Linked DNA regions of Homo sapiens. The protein of the gene in region 1 interacts with the protein of each later gene in a pairwise test. Each region holds a gene or a part of one and is shown on either strand. Other genes may lie near its edges. The genes, in order: YTHDF1, OIP5, MSX2 and KRTAP8-1.

Evidence for each region.
Region 2: the proteins of YTHDF1 (region 1) and OIP5 interact in binary tests that used the Homo sapiens proteins (3 or more experiments, as listed by UniProt).
Region 3: the proteins of YTHDF1 (region 1) and MSX2 interact in binary tests that used the Homo sapiens proteins (3 or more experiments, as listed by UniProt).
Region 4: the proteins of YTHDF1 (region 1) and KRTAP8-1 interact in binary tests that used the Homo sapiens proteins (3 or more experiments, as listed by UniProt).

What each region holds. Positions count from the first base shown.
Region 1 is NC_000020.11:63,213,132-63,220,893, forward strand, and holds the start of YTHDF1 (YTH domain-containing family protein 1), read right to left. Parts: upstream 3,001-7,762; 5' UTR 2,762-3,000; coding exon 2,735-2,761; intron 2,471-2,734; coding exon 2,446-2,470; intron 2,429-2,445; exon of another isoform or gene 2,317-2,428; intron 813-2,316; coding exon 733-812; intron 1-732.
Region 2 is NC_000015.10:41,308,767-41,315,618, forward strand, and holds the end of OIP5 (protein Mis18-beta), read right to left. Parts: intron 4,589-6,852; coding exon 4,507-4,588; exon of another isoform or gene 3,132-4,506; intron 1,084-3,131; coding exon 988-1,083; 3' UTR 507-987; downstream 1-506. UniProt on the Homo sapiens protein: Required for recruitment of CENPA to centromeres and normal chromosome segregation during mitosis.
Region 3 is NC_000005.10:174,719,956-174,727,581, reverse strand, and holds the start of MSX2 (homeobox protein MSX-2), read right to left. Parts: upstream 3,001-7,626; 5' UTR 2,923-3,000; coding exon 2,544-2,922; coding exon of another isoform or gene 2,518-2,543; exon of another isoform or gene 2,515-2,517; intron 1-2,514. UniProt on the Homo sapiens protein: Acts as a transcriptional regulator in bone development. Represses the ALPL promoter activity and antagonizes the stimulatory effect of DLX5 on ALPL expression during osteoblast differentiation. Probable morphogenetic role.
Region 4 is NC_000021.9:30,812,181-30,818,169, forward strand, and holds KRTAP8-1 (keratin-associated protein 8-1), read right to left. Parts: upstream 1,095-5,989; 5' UTR 1,041-1,094; coding exon 849-1,040; 3' UTR 517-848; downstream 1-516. UniProt on the Homo sapiens protein: In the hair cortex, hair keratin intermediate filaments are embedded in an interfilamentous matrix, consisting of hair keratin-associated proteins (KRTAP), which are essential for the formation of a rigid and resistant hair shaft through their extensive disulfide bond cross-linking with abundant cysteine residues of hair keratins.

The DNA.
Region 1 (7,762 bases):
GAGTTAAAATTGAAACCAGGCTGGGCGCGGTGCCTCACGCCTATAATCCCAGCACTCTGGGAGGCCGAGGCGGGTGGATCACCTGAGGTCAGGAGTTTGAGACCAGCCTGGCCAACATGGTGAAACCCCGTCTCTACTAAAAATACAAAAATTAGCTAGACGTGGTAGTGGGTGCCTGCAATTCCAGCTACTCCCGAGGCTGAGGCAGGAGGAATGCTTGAACCCGGGAGGCAGAGGCTGCAGCAGGCTGAGATCACGCCATTGCGCTCCAGCCTGGGTGGCAAGAGTGAGACGCTGTCTCAAAAAAAGGACTGAAACCCAGGCGGCCTCTGGCTCCACAGTCGCTCCACAGCCCAGCTCTTAGCTGCCTCCCCAGACCACAATTCCAATCATCCAGAGCTAAGAATAACCAGGAAGCTTCAGAAACACACACACACCTCCACTGCGTCAAAGGCAAGACACACCACTGACCCACAAACACTAGAGCCAACTAGACCTGTTTGCATCCCAGCCCCAGTGGGATGCCGCCTCCTCCACAGGGAAAATCATTTTCACCCCACTGATGCCCAAGGTTAACAGGAGTCACATCTTCATGAGCAGTCTATCATTCCTAATACTTTATAGTCTGCTGCTTTGTTGTTTAGGATAATTTAAAAATCAGAAATGACAGTAAAGGTACAAAACAATTAAAACCAACTTAAAAACAAATATATGCTAACAAAATAAACTCACCTGATTTGACTGTCCAGTAAGGTAGGGCTCAAAGTCATTGTCATGAACTGTATCCTTCTGATGTAACGAACCATTTTGTACTAGAACAAAAAGTTGCAAAATATTACCCTCAAATTTTAAAAGATTACTTTTAAGCTTGGAAGGCAAAGTTAGCAAAGTCTATTTCCATCTATTTCTAGCAGAAATTATGCTTTAATTTTAAAAGGAGTACAACCAGTATAGAACTGATGTTTATACAACTAATTAGAAGGGGGACGGGAAACTTTCAATAATTTAGGATAAATTTTAAATAAAGGCTTAATCGTAATTTGGTGAGATTAACCAAATCAAGTGTTAACACATAATGCAAGGAACACATAACCAGGGTGAAAACTGACATGGTCTAAGAAGACTTATGTGTGGCAAAAAGAAGTGGAGCCTCCAAAAGCCCAAATGCAGAATGTATGCCCAAACGTATGGAGAACGGAGGGAAGAAAACTTAGGAGGGAAGGGGCTGCAACTGAAGGACTGTTGGGAGCTATTATCTGACTCTCCACAGTGAACCCCAAATATCTGAGACAGGTCTCAGTTAATTTAGAAAATTTATTTTGCCAAGGTTAAGGACACACCCATGATACAACCTCAGGAGGTCTTGACAACATGTGCCCAAGGTAGTCGGGGGACAGCTTAGTTTTATACATTTTAGGGAGACATGAGAACCATCAATGTAAGATGTACATTGGTTTGGTCCGGAGAGGCGGGACAACTTGAAGCAGGGAGGGGGCTTCCAGGTCATAGGTAGATAAGAGACAAACGGCTGCATTCTTTCGAGTTTCTGATTAGCCTTTCCAAAGGAAGCAATCAGATAAGCATTTATCTCAGTGAGCAGGAATGACTCTGAGTTCTGTCCTTTGTCCACCAGGAATTTCCTTGTGGGCAAACTGTGGGGGAAGTATGTAACTTTTTTTGTCTTAGAAGCTATCTTTTTCAGGAATAGAATGGGAGGCAGGTTTGCCCTCAGCAGTTCTCAGCGTAGCTTTCTCCCTTTGGCTCAGTGATTTGGGTGCCCCAAGACTGGTTTTCCTTTTACACCACTTACCTTCCCACTGTTATTATGCTCAGCCAGAAAAAGCAAGCAAAGGTAAATAAAGTGCTGGGCCTTTTCCAATCTTAAAACACGATGAACCGTATTTGGTTACACCTGAGCTGACACACAAACTGGCTAAAAAAGTGTTCCAAGTAAACGTGAAGTGTCACTTAACAGTTTTCACATGAGTGCGCTCTGAGGGTTTATCCCAAGCCATAATGTCACAGGAGATGCTAACAGACTTGGAAAACGGGCTGCAACTACCGGGGATGTGGAGCTTAGCCTGCAGAACCTTGGACTGCCCCTCTCCTAGAGCAGCCCCTGCTGGGCGGAAAAAGGCAAGTCGCTCAACCCCTGCGGCCATGTCCACCCGGCTCTCCTACCTCCCCTTCCCCAAAGCAAATCCATGATCATGCGGTGGGGAGAGACGGGCCCAAACTACTCTGAGCAATCATTTATTCACTTCTTGAGAAGCCCCTGTCTTCGACCTGTCAAATCTCCCAGAATCGTCGCACAACCTCAAGTTTTATCTCCCTGAAGCTGGCGGAAGAGAGAAAGTTTCCGGTTCCAGACGCAGCTTCCTGGACCGTTCCTTCCCCGTCCTCCTCCACTCCAGCCCGCGCCGGCCGTCCCGGGACTCCGCTCACCTTTATTATCTTGTCCTTTTGTTCTCTGCACCGCCGCAGGCCGGGACGTGGGGTACACACAACCCGGGGGAAGAGGGAAACACAAAGTTATTCACCAGAGAACTGGTCTCCAACGGGCCGCGAGCTCCGCCGGCCCCGACGCGCGGTCACGTGCGACCCCGGCCCCGAGACCCCGGTCCCGCCTGGGCCCGGCCTCCGCGACCCCGGGCTCTGCGTTCCAGCCCCAGGACCTCAACCCAGACCCCGCGCCTCGGCCCCGGCCGCGGCCCCTGTAACCCGGCCCCGCTACCTGGGTGTCCACGCTGGTGGCCGACATGCTTCATGAACAACTAGACGCGGGGCCGGGGCGCCCGCCGGCTCGGGCCTCCCCTAGAGGCCGGGCCTGTCACCCTAGCTCGCGCGGCCCCGGGCCCCGCCGCCAATTCCCCGGGCGCCGGCCGGGCGGCGGCGGCGGCTGCTGGGCGCGCGGGCCCCTGGCGAGGCGGCAGCGGCGGTGAGCCCGGGACGCGGACGCACTGAGGAGGCGTCGACTCCAATGGCGGCGGCGGCGGCGACAGCAGCGGCGACGGCGGCGGCAGGGGACGAGACTGCGCGGCGTCAGCGTGCACGCGGGGCAGGCCGGGAGCGCCGCGCCGGGCCGCCACACTTCGCGCCTGCGCGCTCCCGTCTTACGGGATGGATTTCGCTCTCAGGTCCCAGTCTCGTGCGGCGGGGCGGGGACCGCAGCCGGCTGGGCGGGGAAGCCCTGAGCCGGGGAAGTCACGTGGGGCGTGTCCGGAGGCGCCGCGGGGCCTGGCGGGAAGGGGCTGGCGGGCTGCTGCCAGGTGTACAGCCGCCCACACACACCCCGGCCACAGCCGCACCCCCGACGCGCTACCGGCACTGAGGCCTCTGTAGTTTTCCCCAAGGTCCGAAGACTAAACGCTGTTCTGGTCCGACAGCTGGGCTACGGGTCTGTCCGGGGTCGGTCTGCCCTTCCCCCGCGCGCAAACACCTGCCCGCCCAGAGCTCCGAGCCCCCGCGTGTTCCAGGTCGCGCGCCTCGGCCCTTGCCGCGGGACCTGCGGGCTTTGTTCGCTTTGCGGCCCTGGCCTTCAGCCGCAGCGGAGCCCTGGGCCCGGTCCCGGAGGTCAGCTGTTGTGTGGATGCACCCCTGGACCTGCGAGAGGCTCGCCGGCTTATAACCAAGTTCTCATGTTAGATTCTTGACCCCGATTTCATCACCAGGAGGAAAAGCAGTGCTCTGTGCCCCAGCCTAGGCCGGGCCAGGGGACTTGTCATCTTTGTTCGAGGATGGACAGCCCCTTCTTAGCAGCAACTGTGCAAAGAGAGCCCAGTTCTCAGTTCCTAACCCCTCAGCATCCCCAACCTGGACGCCCTTCTGGTCAAGGTGTTGAATTTCGCTCCCTGCAGCCAGTATCCAATCCTGCCACCCTTGTGGCTAACTCCCTACAGAGGCTTCCAGGTTGATATTTTTCTTTCCAGCTCTGGCAGCTGTAACATCTTCACGTGGCCTGGATCTGGGTCCTGCTAAAGGAGAAAGACCTGGAATGGGGTGTCAGGCAGGTTGACGTCAAATGAGTGTTTTCCACAAAGTGGGCCCGGGCAGATGCGCTAAGCAGGGTGAACAGTGACAGCAGGGACGGCAATGGAGTCCCAAGACGGCTCCAAGCCTGGACATCCGCATCAGTGGGGTAGCAGACAGCCTCTCACACTGCTGCAGGAGGAGGTGGAAACTGCCCCCAGCAGGCCGGTCAGCCACAGAGAGGACTGCTGCTCCAAGTTGCTCCAGGTCTCCCTGGAGCCCTGCCTCGCCTAAAGCTGGGGAAAGCGGGCTGGGCTTGTTTCCCTGGAACAGAGCTGGGGGATGTCTGGTGCCCTGAGGATGAATCTGGATCCCCTGGGACTTTGATGTGTTTGGGCCATGGGCAGACATCTCAGGCCAGGATGAAATCTGTGCATTTGGGGTACATCCGAAAATGAACAGCACGTTTCCAGGATGGTGGCCCACATGGAGAAGATGTGTGGGGATTGTAGGGACAGTGGGGTCCCTGGGGGCACCCTGCCACCTGCTTCTGTGTGATAAGGCCTGCGCATCCTGGGCAGGCCCTGAGTGCCTGCTTCCCAGGACACTGAACTGTTTGGCGGCCAAGACTGCAGCAAGGGGGTGTCTGGGTGGTCAGAGTAGACACTCGGACTCTTGGAGCCCCTGTCTGTCTTCTCACCCAGCTCCCATCCCTGGGCCAGGACGGTGCAGTGGTCACCACTGGAGTTCAGAGCCTCACAGCCAGTTACAGGGCCTTCAGCCTCAGGCCTACTTTCCTCCTCCGTGGTGGGTTAATTACTCCCCTTTCACAGGATGAGTGTGTGGAAGAAACTGGGTATGCAGCCCTTGGCGTCAGGCCAGGGCTCTGTCAACACTGGCTGTTACCTGCTGCCTTCACCCACAAATGCCCAGCCAGTCACAGGAGGCAGCACTGGCCCTGCGGGAAGTGGCCACTCCGAGCTTAGGGGCCTTCTTAGATGGCTGAGTGCCGGCAATGCAGGACCCTGGAGGTGTTTCAGTTTCCTGGAGCTATCTCAACAAAGTACCCGGAACTGGGGGGCTTAAAATAACGGCAATTTATTCTCTCCCAGTTCTGGAGGCCAGAAGTCTCAGATCAGTATTGCTGGGCTGAAGTGGAGACAGAAGCTCCTTCCAGGGCCCTCGGGGAGGATCCTAGCCTCCTCCAGCCTCCGGTGGAGGCCGCAGCCCTTCCTGGTCTTTCCTCCTCGCCTCCGTCACCTCATGGCCTTTTCCTCTGTGCCTGTGTCTCTTCTTATAAGGACACTCATCTGGATTTAGAGCCCACCCTAATCCAGGATAACCTCATCGTCTTGTGATTATATCTGCAAAGAACCTATTTCTAAATAAAGTCACGCAGGTACCAGGTGGACATGAGTTTTGGGGGTACACTCTTCAGCTCACTACAGAGATCACTGGGGAGGCCTCACAGTGATGCCTATGGAGAGATTTTGGAGGGTGACTCCTGGGGCTGAGTAGGTTCTACTCACAAATGTAGATGGAAGGAGAGGCCCCCACAGTGAGGCCTGAGGAGGCACCACCATGCCAGCCTAGCCCCACTGGCCAGGGAAGAGGCTGGCAGGATCCCACAGCCACTGCCCGGACCCACCCAGGCTTTTGCTGTGAACTCCAGAAGGCTCCATGCTGACCCTGACATGGAAGGAGACTGGGGGCTGCCCAGGGGCAGGACAGGTCTGGTTGGCGGGAACAGGGGGCCCTAAAGTGAATTGAATGCAGGGGGTGTGGCACCAGCAGGGGGTGCTGAGGTCCCCAGGCCAGCTCTGGGGGGAAAGCCTTTATCTTGGCCAGGCCTGAGGACCTGGGAGGGTGTCACAGAAAACCAGGAGTTGAGCTGCCTGTAACCTTGGAGGGCCACGTCCACTGCCCAGCCTGCCCAGGTTCACACCCCAGCCCAGCTCTCGGCCAGGAAAAGGGAGGTCACCCAGCACCGAATGTCAGGGGACAACTGTCTCTCCCTCACAGGGAGCAGGCAGCTCCTCATGTCATGGATGGAAACGGATCAGAGGGCTTTGGCCACTCCTCTGGGTGGCCCAGCGGTCTTGAGACAAAGCCTGCCATTTCTAAGCCTGTGCCGTCAATGACAGACAAGAGCCCATCCCCTGTGGGCCGTCTGCCTTCAGACGGGAACCTTCTTGCTCGGGGAACCTGTTGCTCATCCAAGAGCCCTTCCTAGCAGTACCCGCTCCTGGCAGCACCCTCAAGTGGTATGGGATTGTCTAAACATGACTAGCATTAGGAAGGTTTGGGTTTTTATTTATTTGAAAGTCACACAGGCGCATGGTTAAAAAGCTATCTTTGCACTCAAAGGATATAAGGTGGGAAGCAAAAACCACCACCCCCAAACCCCTCAGAGAGGGAGCCCTCCAGATGCCTGCCTGTGCATGCAAGCATGAGTCTCTGTCTCCACTATCTGCCCTTGCATCTCACGTGTTGGGAAACCGCACTTTGGGGATCCACAGTGCTGCTGAGTATCAACACCCGCCGTCCACCCACCTCGTCCCTCTCCAGGGAGGGCATGGGCTCCAGCCTCATCCAGTGAGTGTCCTGGCCCCAACACACATGCACACGTGTGCGAAGACACCTGGCAGGAGGCTCCTGCCCATGGAATCACTGGGCCAAAGGCGCTTACACTGGCCATTGTGCTGATGTTGCCAGATGGCCCCCAAGGAGGCTGTACCAAAACCCCCAGCCAAGAGGAGGTTTCTGAGCTGGGTGCAGGGTCCAAACGCTGTGGGCCCTGAATTCAGATGATCCCTGGCTGAACCAAACCCCTCCTGAGTGCTGGACACAGCTCACCCTGCAGCTGGCCTCTGGGGGCTCTCAGTGAAGATACCCATCTGTCTCGATGGACACCAGCCACTCACGCAGCTGCCCTCTCCACGAATGCTGTCTCAGGTCCTCATCTCCTCCCTCACCTCAACCCCGGGCTCATCCCCAGTCGGCAGGCCTCCTTCCAAAACCGCTCCCCACCGTACTCCCTGGCGGGGCTGCTTTGTCCTTGATGAAACTGGCTCCTGCTCTCTTGGTTCCTCCTGCCTCCCTGTGCCTTGGGAGTGCACTGACATGGAGTGTGCTGACGTGGAGTGTGTGGAGTGCGCTGACGTGGAGTGCGCTGATGAGTGTGTGGAGTGGGCTGACATGGAGTGGGCTGGCATGGAGTGTGTGGAGTGGGCTGACGTGGAGTGCGCTGACGAGTGTGTGGAGTGCGCTGACGTGGAGTGGGCTGGCGTGGAGTGTGTGGAGTGGGCTGGCGTGGAGTGTGTGGAGTGGGCTGACATGGAGGAGTGTGTGGAGTGCGCTGATGTGGAGTGTGGGGAGTGGGCTGACGTGGAGTGTGTGGAGTGCGCTGACGTGGAGTGCGCTGACGTGCCTCCCATGATGCACGGCACTTTACAGTTTTCAAACCTTCTCTCTCTAAGCTTCTCATTGGACCATTCACCCCACAAGTGTGAACTGAGCACATACTTATTATGTGTATGGGGCGTGGGGGCACGAGGTGGCCCCTGCCCAGCAGAGCTCCTGGTGCTGGGACCTTCCATAGCCCTACAAAGGTTCATCTAGCTTCACTGAGCACCTGCTGTTCTCCACACACGGGGACAGAACAGGCCAGGTGCTGCTCCTGCAACCCAGATGGGAGGCAGAGGTAGATGGGTCACTGTAGATCTGAGCTGTGATGGAGGCAGGACAGAGAGGAGCCCAGAGACTCAGGATAGGCAGGCACTCACCAAATGAG
Region 2 (6,852 bases), on another chromosome or scaffold:
CGGCTGACTGCAGCCTCTACCTGCTGGGTTCAAGCAATTCTTCTGCCTCAGGTTCCTGAGTAGCTGGGATTACAGGTGCGCACCACCATGCCTGGCTAATTTTTGTATTTTTAGTAGAGACGAGGTTTCACCACGTTGGCGAGGCTGGTCTTGAACTCCTGACCTCAAGTGATCCACTGCCTCGGCCTCCGAAAATCTGGAATTATAGATGTGAGCCACTGCGCCAGGCCTGTAATTTTATGTATCTTTATGTGATTATTTGAATGTCCCTCTCTGACTAGATTATAAATTCTAAGGATAGTGTGTCTATTTTTGCTTACCTTTTATCCCCAGCACCTAGTCTAACACTTTACAAATATATATTAAATTAATATTTTGATAAGTTACTCAAAGTGCTACATAAAACAAAATTATAGAAAATAGTACTTTGGTAACTGTTTCGTTTTATCATTGCTTTCATTATTTCTCTGTTAACCTCAGTTTACAACTGAAAAAGACAAATTGTATATTATTCAGGCAATTTATTAAACATTACCTATAGAATATTATGATCTGTATTTTACAGAAGTTAAAAAGTGATGTATTAGTATTCATAACAACTGCTCCATGCAGGAGTAATAGAAGTCAACATTAAGCCCAACTCTATTTTCAGACCAACCATGCAACTTTAGATCAGAGGACACATGGGACTCTGCATCTTAATTCCTAAATTTACAGTCAAAGACATTTTCAGAGATAAGTATTATGAATTCAATAAGAATCTAAAGTAAGTTCTTAAGGCAAATAGCTATAAAAGAGAAGAATCCTTAGTCTCTCATCTTCTAAAAACAGCTTCACAAATAATTTGGAAAATCAGCCTAAAGGTAAATAGAAACTGCATTTCCCCTCCATTCTTGAAGCCAATCTTTTTCAAGAAATGACTAAGCAGCACCTGTTGTTGAAGACAGCAATAAAGCCTGAACCTGACACTCAAGCTTTGGTACAGGATCAGTTTTCTGGCTTGGACTGGTCAGGAGTCACTTCACTCAGAATCTTCATTAGTGATTTTAAGCGATTGTGCGTTAGCACTATCTTCTCTTTCAGCTAGGAAGAGAAATATATAGATATCAGGGCATCTTTTTTTATTTTTACTTATTTTAAGAGACAGGGTCTCACTCTGTTGCCTGAGCTGGAGTACAGTGGCACATTCATAGTTCACTGCAGCCTCAAGCTCCTGCTCTCAAGTGATCCTCCCACTTCAGCCTCCTGATTAGCTAGGACTACAGTCATGTGTTTTAAATTTTCTTTGTAGAGATGGGGGTCTTGCTTTGTTGCCCAGGCTGGTGTTGAACTCCTGGCAGTCAGTGATCCTCCCAAAGTGCTGGAATTACAGACATGAGCCACCACACCAAGATGGATATCTGGGCATTTTAAGCTTAACTGTCAATTTGCTGGTCACAAACACCATTTCAAATTTAAGCTAGTTTATATCTAGTAATTGGGAGCTGGCAATGTCTAAATGCATTTGAGGAATAAATTTCTTCTAATTCTGGAAGAACTTTATACAACAACGTAGCGCACAGTAAGATCTTCAGATGTGGCCAGGCGCAGTGGCTCACGCCTCTAACCCCAGCACTTTGGGAGGCTAAGTTGGGCAGATCACGAGGTCAGGAGATCAAGACCATCCTGGCTAACACGGTGAAACCCCATCTCTACTAAAAATACAAAAACAAAATTAGCTGGGCACGGTGGCGGGCGCCTGTAGTCCCAGCTACTCAGGAGGCTGAGGCAAGAGAATGAGTGAACCCAGGAGGCAGAGCTTGCAGTGAGCCAAGATCGTGCCACTGCATTCCAGCCTGGGTGACAGAGCGAGACTCCGTCTCAAAAAAAAAAAAAAAAAAGATCCTCAGATGTAAAGTTTCGTGTGAAAAAAGACAAAACATTGCTGAGCAGCACTGCTACTGTGAAGATGAATAAAGTCTGGTCACAGTGCTTTGTGGAGACAGGCTTCTCCTCCTTTTCCAGTGGCAAGAATTTAGCTTTTCTTTTAACACTTTGTTAACAGTAACAAATGCCTCTCTGACTTTAACATTCTACTAATGGTCTGCAAAGTTAACTCTGGTTATTAGGTTTAGAACAGATAACTGTTGCAATTAGGTAATTTTTAAGAGTTCTTACAGCTATATTTAGCATGAAATTTAGTGTTGTTACTCAGCAGGGCAAGAGCAGTGGCTTCTGATAATCTCCATTCGCCCCTCCCAGCATAGGATTTCCACCCTACAAGCAAGCTGGGGGCAAGGGCAACTGGGTTCCCAGCTACTGGGGAGGCTGAAGCAGAAGCACTTGAACCTGGCACTCACACCTGTAATCCCAGCAGTTTGGTAGGCCGAGGCGGGTGGGTCACCTGAGCTCGGAAGTTCGAGAACAGCCTGGCCATCATTTTTAGCAGAGATGGTAAAACCCCGTCTCTACTAAAAATACAAAAATTATCTGGGCACGGTAGTGCGCGCCTGTAGTCCCAGGTACTCAGGAGGCTTTTTAGTATTTTTAGTAGAGACAAGGATTCTCCATGTGGGAGAATCGCTTGAACCCGGGAGGAGGGGGTTGCAGTGACCCAAGACTGTGCCACTGCATTCCAGCCTGGGAGGCAGAGTGAGACTTTGTCTCAAAAATAAATAAACAAATAAATGTTTCTGTATTTGCCATATACCTTGAAGAAAATTTCCACAGACTTAAGATGGTTGTTTCCTTTATAATATTCTTCCTGGATCCTATCCATGGAACTCCTCATACTGCCATTCCAAAGTCATTTCCCATACCAATTATTATTATTATTATTTTTGAAATAGATTCTCACTGTCACCCAGGCTAGAATGCAATGGCGTGATCTTGGCTCACTGCAACCTCTGCCATCCAGGTCCAAGCGATTCTCCTGCTTCAGCCTCCTGAGTAGCTGGGGCTGGGATTATAGGCGCCTGCCACTGCGCCTGGCTAATTTTTCTAGTTTTAGTAGAGACGGGGTTTCACCATCTTGGCCAGGCTGAACTCCTGACCTCATGATCCACCCACCTCGGCTTCTCAAAGTGCTGGGATTACAGGTGTGAGCCACCGCACCCAGCCAATAAGAATTCTTTTTTTTTTTTTCCACACAGAGTTTCGCTCTCAATGGCAAGCTCTCGGCTCACTGCAACCTCTGCCTCCCAGGTTCAAGCGATTCTCCTGCCTCAGCCTCCCGAAAAGCTGGGATTATAGGCATGCGCCAACACGCCCGGCTAATTTTGTATTTTTAGTAGAGATGGGATTTCTCCATGTTGGTCAGGCTGGTCTCAAACTCCCGACCTGAGGTGATCTGCCTGCCTCAGCCTCCCAAAGTGCTGGGATTACAGGCATAAGCCACCATGCCCAGCCTTCTTTTTTTCTTTTTTTTTTTTTTGAGACAGATTTTCACTCTTGTTGCTCAGGCTAGAGTGCAATGGCATGATCTTGCCTCACAACAACCTCTATCTCGCAGGTTCAAGTGCTTCTCCTGTCTCAACCTCCCAAGTAGCTGGGATTACAGGCATGTGCCACCACGCCCGGCTAATTTTGTATTTTTAGTAGAGACAGGGTTTCTCCATGTTGGTCAGGCTGGTCTCGAACTACTGATCTCGGGTTATCCATCCGCCTCAGCCTCCCAAAGTGCTGGGATTACAGGCGTGAGCCACCACGCCCAGGCAAGAATTATTTTTTTTTGAGACGCAGTCTCGCTCTGTTGCCCAGGCTGGAGTGCAGTGGCGCAGTCTCGGCTCACTGCAACCTCCACCACCTGGGTTCAAGCGATTCTCCTGCCTCAGTCTCCTAAGTAGCTGGGATTACAGGCGCCCACCACCATGACCGGCTAAATTTTTTTTTTTTTTTTTTTTGAGACAGAGTCTTGCTCTGTTGCCCAGGCTGGAATGCAGTGGCGCAATCTCAGCTCACTGCAACCTCCACCTCCCAGTTCAAGCAATTCTCCTGCCTCTGCCTCCCGAGTAGCTGGGACTACAGGCACGTGCCACCACGCCCGGCTAATTTTTTGTATTTGTAATAGAGATGGGGTTTCACTGTGTTAGCCAGGATGGTCTCCATCTCCTGACCTCATGTTCTGCTCGCCTTGGCCTACCAAAGTGCTGGGATTACAGGCGTGAGCCACCACGCCCGGCCAGGAATTCTTAATAACTGTTTCATCACTCTTATGTCTGAGACAGTTGAGCAATTACAAGGTATTTGCAAAGAAGACACCTCTATGGCAAGATGATGATATCCATTCCCAGCACAAAGGAGAATGCAGGAGTGCAGCAGTTGAGCAGCTTTTCCTTTCTTCCTGAACTATACCTTACAGTGTGGTTTTAGTATTTTGTTTTTCATTACAAATTCAATAGGGAAGGTCAAATCAAGTAAAAAGGATTATTGAGCATCATGCCATTTCATCATCCCCAAGTTCATTGGTAGAAGTTATCAAGAGTTGTCTGTATTTTAAAAAAGCATACAACCATCATGAAATTTTACCTCTGCAATCTTTTCTGATAGAGGAACATTTTGAATATCCATCTCTGATGCATTTACTATGGCTTTTGTTTTTAAGAGATAGCTAGATAGGAAAAAAGAAAAATATTAGTGTCATACCATGGTTAAGATTATAAAAGAACCAAACTTACCTTCTAAAGAAAGTATGTGTCAAAAAAAGCCTGGCTTCTTAATGATTTTCATTTCAAGACTCATGATGTTACAGTTGGCCCACCATATCCATGGGTATAGCATCCATGGATTCAAACAACCACAGACTAAAAATATTCAGGAAAAAAAAACTGGATTGTGTCTGTACTGAACAGGTACACTCTTTTTCTTGTCATCATTCCCTTAACATTACAACAACTTTGTAAATTTCCTATGTAAATTTGTAATGTACATAGCATTTACATTACGTTAGCTGTCATAAGTAATCTGGAGATTATTTTAAAGTATAAAATATATACTTTTATACTTTAAAAAGGAGGATATCCAAAAGTAATATGCAAATATTACACCACTTAATATCAGAAACTTGAGTGTCCATGGATTTTGGTATCTGGTGAGGTCCTGGAACCACAGATACTGAAGGATGACTGCATTTTCTTGGAAAAACAAATTCAAAAATAAACAAATTGGAGAGGATCTCTGCCGCATCCCACCAGAGACAAAATTATCTCAGGGTAAATTAAAGACAAAAACCAGGCTCATATGAATAATTACGATGATTATAAGCTTTACACTTCATCAGTAGGATCCTGTAGCACAGTTTGAAAGAAAGTAATCCCAGTATGAGACATAGTGTTGGTCACCTATTCCCAGTAGCTGTTCCTCACTTTTTTTTTTTGAGATGGAGTCTCGCTCTGTTGCCCAGACTAGAGTGCAGTGGTACAATCTCAGCTCACTGCAACCTCTGCCTCCTGGGTTCAAGCGATTCTCCTGCCGCAGCCTCCCGAGTAGCTGGGATTACAGGCTTGCGCCACCACGCCCAGCTAATTTTTGTATTTTTAGTAGAGATGGGGTTTCACCATGTTGGCGAGGCTGGTCTCGAACTCCTGACCTCAGGTGATCCCCCTGCCTGGGCCTCCCAAAGTGCTGGGATTATAGGCGTGAGCCGAGCCCAGCCTTCCTCACTTCTTTATTGCCAACAGAATCCAGATTTTTGCCATGAGCCTACTGTTACATATTTGCTTTCTCAGATGAGGTGATCATGTGACATAGTTCTGGCCAACAAGGGTAAGAAAATGGGATGGGTGTGCTGGCTCACACCTATAATCCCAGCACTTTGGGAGGCTGAGGCAGGCAGATGGCTTGACATCAGAAATTTGAGACCAGCCTGGGCAACATAGCGAAACTCCATCTCTTTTTTTTTTTTTTGAGACAGAGTCTTACTCTGTCACCCAGGCTGAAGTGCAATGGCGAGATCTCGGCTCACTGCAACCTCCGCCTTCCAGGTTCAAGCAATTCTTCTGCCTCAGCCTCCCAAGCAGTTGGGATTACAGGTGCCCACCATCATGCCCAGCTAATTTTTGTATTTTTAGCAGAGACAGGGTTTCACCATATTGGACAGGCTGGTCTTGAATTCCTGACCTCAAGTGATCCGCCTGCCTCAGCCTCCCAAAGTGCTGGGATTACAGCTGTGAGCCAACATGCCTGGCCAGCGAAACCCCATCTCTACAAAAAATACAAAAATTAGCCAGATGTGGTGGCATGCCTGTAGTCCCAGCTACTTGGGAGGCTGAGTTGGGAGGATCACCTGAACCCAAAAGGTTGAGGCTGCAGTGAACCATGATCGCTCCAGCCTGTGTGACAGTGAGACCCTGTCTCAAAAAAAAAAAAAAAAAGAATAAAAAAAAGATTAAGAAAATTTATGCTGGCGGGGCGCAGTGGCTTATGCGTGTAATCCCAGCACTTTGGGAGGCCGAGGCGGGGGGATCACCTGAGGTCAGGAGTTTGAGACCAGCCTGGCAAACATGGTAAAACCCCATTTCTAATAAAAATACAAAAATTAGCAGGCTGTGGTGGAGCGCACCTGTGGTCCCATCTGCTTGGGAGGCAAGGCAGGAGAATCACTTGAACCTGGGAGGCGGAGGTTGCAATGAGCTGAGATCACACCACTGTGTTCCAACTTGGGTGACAGAGCAAGACTCTGTCTCAAAAAAAAAAAAAAAATTTATGCTGATGAAAAGGGGGAATTTTCTTGTGTTCCCATACTCTCCATATCCTTTTCCTTCATGTTTAGGATGCTATCATCAATAGATGTAATGACTGTAATTGCAGCAGCCATCCCGAATCCAAGAGGAAAAGGCCAAAGTTTCTACTTAATCAAAAAGAATGTCCTGACCT
Region 3 (7,626 bases), on another chromosome or scaffold:
CAGAGACTCTCAAGAGACCTGCAAAATTCTCGCCCTTTCTAAACTAGGCCGGGCCCTCAGGAGGACTCAGGTGTCTCAGCTCAGATACCAAGTTCCTAGCGTGTATATACTCTTGCTCCTGGCTCTACGTGGGGTTTTGAAGCACTGTGCGCCTGGGCAGGGTAATTCCAGCTGGTCCTTCGGGTTACATTTGAATTATGAAATCCAGGTGACCGGGATCGCACATGTGTATCAAAACCATGAAGCTATGAGGCTTCCTCCCAATGCAACACTCCCCATCCCTCCACCCCCACCTAATTTTAAACCAGCCAGAGGAAGGATGCGATTATATAAGGCAAAACAGCGTTTATCCTACTTCCTCCAAATAACAAAATCAGGCCCGGGCGGGTAGCTCCCTCTCGCCCCAGGCTCCGTCGCCTGGCATTCTCAGGACCCACTACTCTGACCACAGGGTTCCCGCTGCCACCTCCAGGCCCAAAGCACCAACAATTCTTCATGGTGTTTTTTTTTTGTTTTTTTGTTTTTTTTTACTTTAAGTTCCGGGATACATGTGCAGAATGTGCAGGTTATAAACTCGGTTCTCAGAATTTCTGGTTCTTTTCATGGGAAGGTCACAGCCTGGGCCCGAGGTTGCCTTACCCAGAGCAGGGAAGCTTGAGCACAGGGCAGAGATGTTTAGAGGGGTAGTAGTCATTGCCTTTCCAGACCCACAGGCCTAAAGGATGGCAGGATTCCTAACCTCTGGACACTACTCCATTTAAGGCCTGTATCATTGGCTGGGCATAGGCGTAGGCTATGTACTCAATATTTGTTAAACAAATTAAGTCTTTTAATTTTCTGAGCCTCTACCTCACTGTCGATAAAGTGGGTAAGTAACACTAATCCCTCAATGTGGTCCACAGTACTAAAATTTTAAGAGTACCCAGAGCCCTGTCTGTCTGCCACCTGGTAGGTGATCATTAAATGGTCCCCAGCTTTTTTTTTTTTTTTTTTTTGGTCAGGCCCAAACTGCCGATTCCTCTCTGAACTTTGCTGAAATGTCCTCATCTGTTAAGAGGCCGGCTGCTGCCCTACAGAGGAGATAAGATAATACGGTGAAAAGTGCTATAAAGCACTATCCAAACTTGAGTTTAAATTCTTTGAGTCCCTTAATCTCCTCGCCCTTTGAATCTTTCAGAGTTTCTAACAGGGTGGAGAGAGACTGCCAGAGGGGACAGCCACTGACGCCTGGGTATATGGCCTTGTTTTGTTAACAAAATACAGTGCGTCTAGTCTTGAGGGCTGAATGATGTAAATAGTGAAAGGATCTCTCTCAGCTTTGGAGAAAGTCCCTCCACAGCCCCCACCCTCACCTTTCCTACAGGTAGGGGATGGCGTGGTGGGAAATTAGGGGGTAGAGAAACCATAAAAGCCAAGAGATAAAAGTAAAAGAGGCTGTAAAGGATGACGTCTCCAAATTGTAAAAGGACTCAGGGACCAAAAATGGATGCTGAAGCGGAGAATTCTCTGCAGCCTCAATTCTCAAGTGGGGTGCAGGTGCGGATCTCTACCTAGTCTCTCTGGGGAGAGGACGCAAAAGTGGTCAGGGCATATCAAACAGAGGAGCAGGGCGTGGGCAACAGGTGCCCCTGGCCAATCAGTGGTTGTTGGTAACCTGGGACAAGCAAAGGCCGTCTTCTTTAAAAGCCTCAGCGTCCACGTCTGAAAAATAGGGTAGTCACAAGTCCAGTGTCTACACTTGGGGGTTCTAGTGAGGATCTCGATCTGGTGAGCTAGTGAACATCACTCTGCAAACTCTCAAGCCCTGCTGGAATGCGGTTAATTATTACTGTGAGCCAAGAAGAGCCCGTGCGCTTCTGGCCCCAGCCCGCTCCCGGCGAAGCTCAGAACCTTGCCGGGGAGGTGCTGGCTGCGGAGACCACAGAGAGACATTTCCTCCCCGCACCAGACTCTGATGCCACCATCCCTGGTGCCACCATCCCTTCGTGGGATCCGGCTTCGACACCCGCGGGACTCACGAAAGAAAATGGTTTCTCCTCAATGTCTGGCTAAGCCCAGTTAGCTCATCTTTAAAATGGGGGCACAACTCTCAGGGTTGAGTTTTGAACCTGTCTCGTTCCTGGTACATCCAAGTGCTCACTGAACATGGATCCAACTCCTTCACTCCCCAGGCAGAGACTCCGGGGAACAGTGAAACAAAAACAAGCCAAGTGGCCAGAGCGCAGGGCCGAGGGCTGTAGAAACGGACCACCGAGCGACCCCGTAAACCCAGCTGGGGTTCGCTCTTGAAAAAACAATCTGTATGTCGAGGGAGTCTCAGACACACACAGCGCGGTTATTACCCAGAGGGTGTCTTGGATGCGGACGGCGCACTGGGCGCGCCGAACGCCCCGGGCACCCAGGAGTCCAGAGGCCCTGGGCTTGCTTTCCCGGGAGTGTAGCGCACGCAGAAGGGTCTCGGTACCCTCAGCCCTGGAACACCCGCCCCCCGCTCCCTCCAGTACCCCGCGCTACCTCCTACTCCTGCCCCGGCGCGCACTCACTTGGCGGCGGCGAATATCGGCCGGGTTCCTGCATCCACGCCGCTCCATCTTCTGAATTTTCCGACTTGACCGAGGCGGTCTCGAAGGGCTTCACCAGCGGCCCGGGGCTGTGCGCTTCCCGAGCGCCGTGCCCCGACAGCAGCAGTGGCCGCAGGGTGGCCCCGGCCGAGGCGCTTTCGGCCGGCAGCGGGGACGCCTCCTTGGGCGGCTTCTTGTCGGACATGAGCGCCTCCACGCTGAAGGGCAGGCTGGAGACCTTGACGCGGCGCTCCTCCGCGGCCCCCTCGGCGCCCCCAGGCCCCGGGCCTGGTCCGGCCACCACTGCTGGGCCCTCCTCGTCGGGCGAAAACAAGTCATTGCCTTTGGACGGAGAAGCCATGACTTCTCTGCCCTACGTAGCTCCCGACGCGCGACTCCGCTGGCAACCCGGCAGCGGCGACTCAAACTTTTTTGCTGCGGAGACGGGAGGGGCGCGCTGGGAGCTGAGCCTTTCCTCCGAGGGGAAGTGGGAGACGCGCGCCGCCAATCCGCGCCGGGCCTGGCGCTGACGCCAGAGACGCTCGCCCCTGATTGGCTCTTCCCGAAGGGGCTGCCCCCCCTCCTTTTTTTTTTTTTTTTTTTTTTTCCTGTTTGAAATAAATTAGGAGTTAATTACAGGAGCAGTCAGCAGAGTTGTTATTAGGCGATCCCTGAAGGGTTATAATCACGCCGAAACTGAAAAGCCCGAGACCTAATTAAGAGCGATTATTTAAAGCGGAAGTTCGCCGAGTCCCATTTCTTCTCTCTTTTGACCCTTCTTTAAAAGGGACCCTGCGCCCATCCCACTCTCCCTCTACCGCCAGAATAAGTTCAAGATTCGCAAACAGCATTGCAGAAACATTTACGAAGCCCCTACTATGCGTCAAAATTGGCTTACTTTACAGTTCCAGAAAGTCGGTGCTGAAACTCACAGGCCAGTATCCCTGTGAAAGAAATGTATGCACTTAGAAGAGTAACTCGCCACTAGCCAGCGCTCAAAAGCGCCCACTGTTATTATTACAACTCTTTCCCCTGGAAAAGAGGGGCCGGAAGGAGCCCGAGAAGTGGTCAGGAGTGCCTCTCTCCCAAATGGTTCGGAGTGAAGAATTTAAATCAGTTGTCCCCATCTCTCTCACTAGAAAGCAAATCCAGCGCACTTTTAGAAAGTTGAAATCTCTGTACTTGTCTCCTGAACCTCCTTTCTGAGCGCGATCCGGATCCGACCTTTTTCTCAAGACAGTGCAAGTGTGCATTCATGAGTTTGTTTGAGCCTGTGTTTGTCGTGCGTGTTTGAATGCCAGTGTTTGCCTCGGAGGGTAATGGGGGTGGGGGGGAGGAGGAAAAGTCGCCAATATCTAGTGCCTCCCTCTCGTTTGCAAGTCTCAGAAATACCGGCTTCCAAGTTTGCACACCCCAGGCCTACATATCATTTTGGGAAGCACATTTTTATTCATGGCACCTGGTTTTTTATAAAAACATAGATGTCTCCACCCCACCCCAAATTATACCCTCGGTAATTCCTTTCCAAAGCCTCAGTGATGACTGTCTCAGCCTGGGGAAGGGGAGAGCGAGCTTCGAGGATTAGAGGCCTCGGATCTCTCCGCTGGTCCTCAAAATGCCTGACCTAGAAGGTTAGCTTCAAAAGACTTTTTTCAGGCTGCGGCTGTCTTTTCCTATATCTGAACGATTATCCTGCGACTGACGAGGTAAATAGGAAGTCACCCAGTTCAGGACCTCGCCTACAGCAGATGCTTGCTAAACATTCCCTAGAGCATTGGAAGGGAGAGACATTGTTTTTAATTATTTAAATGACCAAGGCTTGGAGGCTACCTCCCAGTTCAGGAGTATTAGAAACTTGACCCCTAGACCTACAGACCCTTATGTACCCTTCCCAATGTACCTCTCTGAGGCACTGTTTGCTTCACCCCAAACCTTTCCCTGAAGTGAAACTGTGCTGGCCGGAGAGAACTGGAAAAAAGTATTACCTGAATCTTAGAGGATAAAGACAGTCTGCACAGGCCAGTTAATTCAGTTTGATTAAAGATGGTCCTGAAAAAGTAAAAGAGTAAGTAAGTCCTAAACACAGTCTTCTAAAACTTCTGAGTTTCTCTCTCACTATAAAGAATATGCACATTTCTTCTTAACCAACTGGAGGCTCAAAAAAGTTAAAAAAAAAAAAACTATGAAAACTACCTGGAGATGTATGCGTTTTCCCCTTGAGTCATACCTGGTGATAGTTGATTTGATATGCATCTCAAATACAGTACAGGTAAATCCAGATTAACTTCTGTACCTTCTAGATGTACAAGGCAAGGTGCAGGCTATATATTTTGGAAGCAAATCTGAAATTCGTTTAGCCCTCAGCTGCCAAAGTGTACAAAAGGGTTCAACTTTCAGTTAGGCTAAACGCAGCCAATGTTTTATAATTATTCCTGAAAACTCCTTGTTAATATCTGTCAGCTATAAGGCACACAGGCTCATTCCTGAGAAATTCGAAACAAAAATCAATACCACTGGAACTCCTTTATTTTAATGAACTTCTCTGGGAAAGGAAAAGCCAGGTCCCCTTTACTACTCTGGAATACTGAAGTCCAGGCAGAGACAAATAAATTACAAAGCCAGGAATAGGAAAACAGAGATAAAAAAATTACCGGTGTTCAAAATCAGAGTGCCAAGCTCTGACCATGAATAGGAAAGATGCTGAGAGAGGAACCAGCCTGCTCCTGGGGTCTTTGCCAGTTCCCTCCCCAGCTCTCTGCTGAGGTGGAGACAAATCGGGAAAGGGGCTCACTTCTGCTGGGAAAGGGCTGGAACCGCAACACAACGCTAGCCCTTTATGGAAAGCCCCAAGTCTGCATTTTATCCAACTTTGGCTGCGTTTTCAGAACGTTTTATTCACCTTTTCCTGGCGGAGTGACCTTGGGCACTCTAAATTGCTTCCTCCAGCCAGCGTTTTTTTTTTTATCTCCAAAATGAGAGATAATAATCCTTACCTGAGATGACTCTGGTGGTGATTAAATTCAATAGGCTACCTAAAGTAACTAGAAGGCATAGGAGGTCCAGGTTAAAACATTATTGTATATCAAAAGCAATCACAATGTATCGAATGCTTTCTCCCTGCCAAGGATCGAAAGATAAGGTGCATCCCAGAGCTTACGGTAGGTTCTTTGTAAAATTTCCGGGGCTGAGAATTTGGCTCGGTCTGAGAAGTGTCCAGGTTTGGGGACAGTGATCTAGCGGAGAACTGGCTTTGTCACGTAGAAGGCACTCAGTAAATGTTAGTTCCCAGGGATGTATGCGTAGCTGCAATATTTGCTAGCAAAAAAGCGGGGTTCCAATAGGAACTCAGCCACCAGGAAGCATCAACTCTGAAGGATGCTTTAGTGCCTGGACCTATCCAGGATCTTATTGGTTTCTTCCAACACACCGCTGCTAGCAGATTATTTTTCCCATTTCACAGATGAATGCCTAAGGCTGGGAAGCGCTAATACTCTGCCCAAGGTCGCGCAGGTAGAAGTGGGAGACACAGGAATCCCTCCCGCGCGGCTGAGGCCTCTGAGCGTAGATCCTCAACCCTGCACCTTCCCGCGCTCCCCGGGGCGCGTTACACCCGCCAGGCCCCTTCTTGAAGCAACCGCGTACGCGCGCTGCGAGTCCCAAGGAGAAAACACTCCTTGCAAACTGTGGAGCACTGCGCGCAGAACGCAGCGTTTGTAACCCCGAGGGCCGAAGGCTAGTTTGTAACCCCAGCGGCTAGAAGGGGGCGGGGGAGGGGCAGCGAAGGGGGCTGTAGACGGGCCTGGGCTTCGGGCAGGCGCCAGGCGCGGGGAGATGAAAGGCGGGCTCCGGGGGAAGGGGCTGCGCCGGGTGACCGGCTCCAGCCGCGCCGGGCGCCCCGCCCCCGCCCTGCCCCGCCCCCGCTGCCCGGGGCAGAGGCGGCTGCCCGCGCCGGAGCCGCGTTAATTGCTCTCGGCCCCAGCACTCAGCCTGCGCGGAGCCGGGACAACCTCGCTCCAGGAGGAATGACAATTCGCCCTAATGGGACAAGCTCGCTCCCAGAGGAGTGACAATTCCTCCTAATGGGAGCTCGTTAGCGGCCTATTCTACCGAGCCCGGGTATCAGAAGCAGGCAGACCCGCGGGCGCCAACATCCGCCAGGAATTCCACAACACCGCTCACCCACCCCCCAAAACATTGGCTGTGTGACTTCGGGCAAAAGGCTACTCGTCTCTGAGCTCATTTTTCTTACTGGCTTGTTGCAGAGTGAGAATGGGGAAGGTTCGGTCCTCTGGTGTCTAGAGAGATCACTTTCCGAGTTACACAGCCCAGGAAGTCGGGTAGATAGATATTCAGGGTCACAGCTGGAGGTTTTGGGGGTACAAACGTCTTGCTTGCGAAGCTCTGCAAGCCCAAGCTTGTTCTTTCCTGTTCTCCTGTTCCCGCCCCCTAAGGTCCGGAGTCAGGACCGAGCCCGGGTTTGAGCCGGGGCTGGAGAGAAGGAGCTTTTGCCAAAAGCACGATGCAGATTACTGAAGGCCCCCTAAAGCCTGAGCTTTCTCCCCATTCCACAGATGAAGTCGTCCAGGCGCAGAGAGGGGAGAGGTTGGCCTGACTTCAGCTGTGGTAAAACCTAATTCAACACGGTGTCCCTGGAAGAAGACCATCACAAGGATGGGGGCGGGGGAGGTAGAGGTAAAAGAAGCTGCATCTCCTTGCAGGTCCCACAGCCTGGAGAGGGGATGGCGAGTTCATGGGGACATCTAGTTCTGGAGGCAGCAGGTGTGAGGGGAGGAGCTGTGGGTCGGCCTTCTGTAGTTCTATATTCAAATCCAGGCCCTACTTCTCACCGTTTTCCGCCGTCACCTTGCTGGGTCTTGGTTTCCCCTTTCAGAAAATAGGCATGCTAATGCCCATCCACAGGGTTGCTGGTGAGAACTAGGTGACAAGCCTTACAAAATACCGAGTAGCGCTGAGTGTGCTGGAAGCAGGCACTGACCCAGGAGACAGCTCTGCTTCGGATCTCCTAGAGCTAAACTGGCTTCAAGATCTAGAGCTGAACTGGCTT
Region 4 (5,989 bases), on another chromosome or scaffold:
TTAGATGGTTTGATATAGGGGATTTATCCCTTCACCTTAAAAACTCTCAGATTTCCAAAGGATGTCTGTGGCTTCTCTATTACTCAATGCTCCAGCATCCTTCATTAGGGGGCATGGCACTTTAGTCTATAATCCTTAGTCCCTGGGAAAGGGAACACAGTGGATTTCATTTGGACTAACATGGAAGTGACTGAAAAAGTTCCTCCTGTGTTGGGTTTTCTTGCGGAGGAGCAGAAGTAGTGAGATGAGAAGGGGACCCCGAGCAATAAATGGTGCTCCATTGGGTTGGAGGTGGGCATCATAAAATTTAAAGAAGGTTCAAACAGGCAACCTTTTAAGTCATTACCTGCAACCCACCCTCTTACCTGCTTATCACACAGGATCAGTAATTCTTTGCTTTCTGGCTGTTCCTAATGCCCACATGAGAAAAATAAATTCACTTCCCCCCCACCACCCATGTAACAGAAAATATGCACACACCAAGAAAGGAAACTTCGCTCTAGCATGAGAATATTATACCAGCTGAGACAAATTTATTGAGATTTTGATAGACATATCCATGACTTCATCACAAGTCATGAGTGTCATGGAAAATTCAAAAGTAGCTCATGACAAGTGGGAGGTCAAATTTCCGAAAATGTCCCAGAGAACATCAGCCAGGGGAGGCAGCTTGAGGAAGCGTCTGCTTTTTCATTTTCCTCCCCTGGGACTCGAGGTAAGTTGGAAAGCAGTGTCTCTGAGGTTGATGAGCAAATGAGGACTGAAGGAGTGGATACGGGGGGAACCTGGAGATGTGGGGCTCAGCCTTCAAGGGAGAGAAGATGCTACACCTCGGGGATTTCAGCCAATCAGTAGAGAGCAAATGGCGAGTATCTCCTGTAGCCGAAAGCCCCACAGCCGTTGTAGCCATAGCCGAAGCCATAGCCCACTGGAGAGTAGGTGCTGCCATAGCCACAGCCAACGCTATATCCCAGCGGGTAGCCATAGCTGCCCCAGTAGCATCCTGGGAAGACAGCCCCGGGGAAGTTGTCGCAGAGCATGGTGTCGGGAGTGGAGGGCTTAGGTAGCAACAGAGTGCGTTTCCTCAGTGGGATGGATTCCTAGTCTCAGAACCTTCTTTATATATCCCAGCTCTGGTGGGTGGTGAAAAACACAAAGCCCTCATTTTCATTCTTGACACCAATTTACATTCTAAAAAGCTCATTAACTTGTTTTGCTCTTGCTTATGATGTCTTTACAGTGGCTTAAGAAAGCTCTCGTGTGATGCAATACAGGGAGAAGATGCCTTTAAACAAATTATTTCCCTTCCTAAAAAAAAAAAAATTATTGCCAGGACTTCAAAGCACTCTGTCTTATAGACCCCATATAACTCTGTAAGCAGGTATATAATATCAAGAAATATTCTGAGGTTGTTAGCTGTTATGCAGTCCTCTTGCTCTCTGAATTTCCACAACACACAGTTGAAATTCAATAAATATGTGTTAAATACATTAATATATAAAATAACAAATGGATAGTGAGTCTATCTCAAAATTCTCAAAATTAAAGTATGTCTTAGTATTCACCTGCTTCAAGGATTCTCTTTTTTGGAATATGAAAGACAAGTGCAATGGAACTCATGAGAAAGAGTCTTTTTTTTTTCCTCTACTACAGCTACCGTGTTTGGGAAACTGGTTAAAAGTGTAATCTTAATCATAGTCCCCTCCTAAACTATACCTAACATCACATTTCTAGAAGACTACTTGAATTAATAGTATTGAGATTTTAAAACGGAGTATTTGGATTAATCCTTGTACTGAATTGTCAAACAAATTTAATTTTTTGGCCTGAAACATATTTCAAACTAAACATTGAAACTAATAAGGTAAACACAGAAAAATGAATTAAAAAATTTATTGTAAGATTTAAAATTTTTTTTCTCTTAGATCTAATGAAACTAGATTGTCTGACAAATGTGATGATATTATAAAGGGCCAGATGACAACATGAAATCAGTTATTTCACTTTTACAATGATCATGCACCCCAGGATAAAGAAGGAATGTTATTCCTTTCTAAACAGAGAGTCAGTTCTCAAGCATGAGTTAAAGGAGGGATAAGGCTGATCAAAACTATCTTGGATCATGTAAGACCTGATATATTATTCTCAGACACCTGCATTAAGATTTCTTACAGTGGCACTTAGTAGAGAACTTACAGAACAAATACCAAAGAGGGCATATGGAACAGAAATAGGCACAGAGATAATAGGAATCATTCTAGAAGGCCACAAAACAGATATGTATTACACATGAGCTCTCCCAGATTTTACTTCATAACCCAGAGGTAACTTTGCTCCCTGCTATCAGCAGCTAGGAATCAAAGGCTGAATCCAAGAACAAGATGAGACACTTGGAAAATTCAAAACCATGCCAGTGTTCTAGCCAGCAGTAGACTAATTACAGCAGAGGCATTTTTTTTAAATATAGATATATATATAATTTTTTTTTGAGGCAGAGTCTTGCTTTATTGCCCAGGCTGGAGTGCAGTGGTGCAATCTGGACTCACTGCAACCTCCACCTCCTTGGTTCAAGCGAGTCTCCTGCCTCAGCCTCCCGAGTAGCTGGGATTACAGGTGCATGCCACTGCGCCAGGCTAATTTTTGTATTTTTAGTAGAGACAGGGTTTCAGCATGTTGGCCAGGCTGGTCTCGAACTCCTGACCTCAAGTGATCTGCACATCTCGGCCTCCCAAAGAGCTGGGATTACAGGCGTGGGCCACCGCGCCTGGCCTAAATTTTTTTATTTTTAGTTTTTGTGAGTGCATGGTAGGTTTATATATTTATAGAGTACATAAGATGTTTTGATACAGATATGCAATGCGTAATAATCACATTCTGGAGAATGAAAACACCTACAGTACCCTGCTTCGTGAGCAAACCTGGATGGCTGCCTATGGGGATTCAGTAATTAAAATTCAAACACGATATGTGGCTTATAGCTAAACAAGTTCAGGGAATTGAAATTAGATTTATTCCCAAAACATAAAGGTATTCAACCACAGATCATTCCCTAAAAATCATAGAATGATTTACATACTATTTCTACTGGCATCACATTGCTGTGTTTCATGATAGAAAAGCTGGTAATGTTAGGGAAAAAAGAAAAATTAGACAAAAAATAGCATTGTATAATGGATAATTTAAAATTTTTGAATTAATATTGCCAAAGGTCAATTATGTTGCTCTATTTAAAAGAATTCTCCCATTCGCCTACCCAATCTGACAAGATGCTAGCTTTGCCTTCTGCAGCACAAAACCTAGCTCTGAACATGAATAGTAATTAAAATATGTTGTCTTTTTTAAAACTTAAGCCCTATTTACAGAGAATGGCTTGGATTTTCTCTAGAAAGTCTACAGAAAATTCTAACAGAAGAAAATTTTAGGGAAACATATCATTTATCAACAAGTCATTTAAAAATTAATAGCGAAGTTAATCCTATATTGAGCCTATGAAAGCTTTATTCTGATAATAGGCTTATCAAAGAAAGAGCAAGGTTTTCATAAAGCCTGAAAGTATACAATGCTGAAAGCCCTTTTTCTTAAAAAGTATACAATGTAATAAATATAAAATTAAGTACAAAAGTATTTGTTGAGATGCTCAAAAAATCACAAAAAAATTAAACTCCTAAATATATAAAGCAAATATTAATAGACCTGAAAAAAGAAATAGATAGAAATATAATTATAGTACAGAGCTTCAATACCCCATTTTCAACAATGAATGGGTAATCCAAAAAGAAAACCAATAATGACACATTGTACTTGAACTTAGACCAAATGGACCTAACAGACGTGTACAGATAGTCCATCCAACAGCAACAGAATACACATTCTTCTCAAGCACACACAGAACATTCTCCAGTGTATATCACACGTTAGGCCACAAAATAAGTCTTAACAAATGTAAGAAGAATGAAATCATATCAAGCATCTTTTTCAACTATAATTGTATGAAACTAGAAATCAATAACAGGAGGAAAACTGGAAAATTCACAAATATGAGGAACTTAAACATTTCCTGAACAGCCAGTGGGTCAAATGAGGAATGAAAAATATCTCCACACACACACACACACACACACACACACACACACACACACACACACAAAACAGAAAAAAAAAACCAAAATTTTGGAATGCAGCAAAAATTCTAAGACAGAAGTTTATAGCAATAAACTCTACATTAAGAAAAATTAGAATTTCAACTAAACAACATAATTTTATATTTGAAGGAACTAGAAGAAAAAGAACAAACTAAGTCCAAAGTTACCAAGAAAAAAGGAATAAAGATCAAAGCAGAAATAACTGAAATATAATCTGAAAAACAGAAAAGAGCAACAAAACTAAGAGTTGGTTTTTTAAAAGATAAACAAAATTGACAAACCTTTAGCTAGACTAATAAAACAAGGGAAAAGACAAATAAAATCAGAAATAAAAGAAGAGATATTATAACATACTCCAAAAATATAAAAGATCATAAGAGACTACTGTGAACAATTATATGCCAAAATAATTCAATAACCTCCAATAAATGGACAAATTCCTAGAAACGTGCCACCTACCAAGAATACATCATGAATAGGAAATCTTAACAGACCAATAACAAATAATGAGATTGAATCAGTAATAAAATATCTTCCAACAAAGAAAAATCCAGAGCCAGATTGCTTCACCATTGAATTCTATAAAACATTTAAGAAGAGCTAATACTAATCTTTCTCAAAGTCCTTCAAGCAATTAAAGAGGAAGAAACACTTTCAAACTCATTTTATGAGGCCAGCATTACTCTAATACCAGTCAGACAAGGACACTATGAGAAAATAAAATGATAGGACAATATCCCTAATGACCATAGATGCAAAAATACTAGCAAACCAAATTTAAAAGCACATTAAAAAGATCATACACATGATCAAGTAGATTTACCTCTGATAAGCAAGAGTGGTTCAGCATACAAAAATTAATCAGTGTAATATACTTTACACATGAATAGGATGAAGGATAAAAATTATTTGTTCATCTCAATCGATGCAGAGAAAGAATTTGACAAAATTCAACAATCCTTCATGATAAAAATTCTCAACAAATTAGGTATAGAAGGCATGTACCTCAACATAACAAATGAATAAATCAGTAACAGTCTTAGAAATAAAACAAGAAAAAAAAGTGTTTCAATTGCTCCTATTGTTTTTAGGATAATATTTTTTAATCTTTAAACTGACCTAAAAGTTCTCAACTCTCTCTTCGTTAAGTTTTGCTGTCTTTTAGTTCTTCAAACTTCGCATGCTCCTCTCACTCTTAAGCTTTGACACATGCCGTTTGTTCTGTGAGGAATTCTCTTCCTTCCTCTCCTTCTGATCAACTCCCATGCAACCTTCACATGCCAGCTCAATCACTTCCTTTGGGAGGCCTTTCTGCCATTCCTGATTAGCTGGAGCCCATCTGTAGCATAACAGTAGGCCAACCTCTTCCTCGTATCTGTAGGACTTAATCGTAGTTCCTATATAACCTTCACTTGTGTGATGGGTATCTGTCTGCCTCATTAACATGCTTATTTCCAGGAGAGCAAGATAGTATTTTTAATCAGCCTTGATTCCTCACTGCCTCACTCACTACTGGGCGTAATATAGGTTTTCCATAAGTTTCAGTTGAATGAATTAATGAAAGAATATTCTAAACCTAACTTGGCTACTCACTTGCTGTGAGGATTGAGGCAAATCATTTTTCCGGGCCTCGCGTGACCCGACTGAAAAATGGGACAAGTTGACTTCCTGGGACTTGCCACCCTAAACATTGTATGATTCTCCCATCAAAAATCACTGATGAGTCAATATGACAATTCAACACTCTCTCATTGGAATTTGGTCAATTAGGCATGCGACTATGGAGAGTGCTTTTTCTCATCTTATTACACATTCCTACTAAGACAAACTAATGAGCTTCCAGCTGC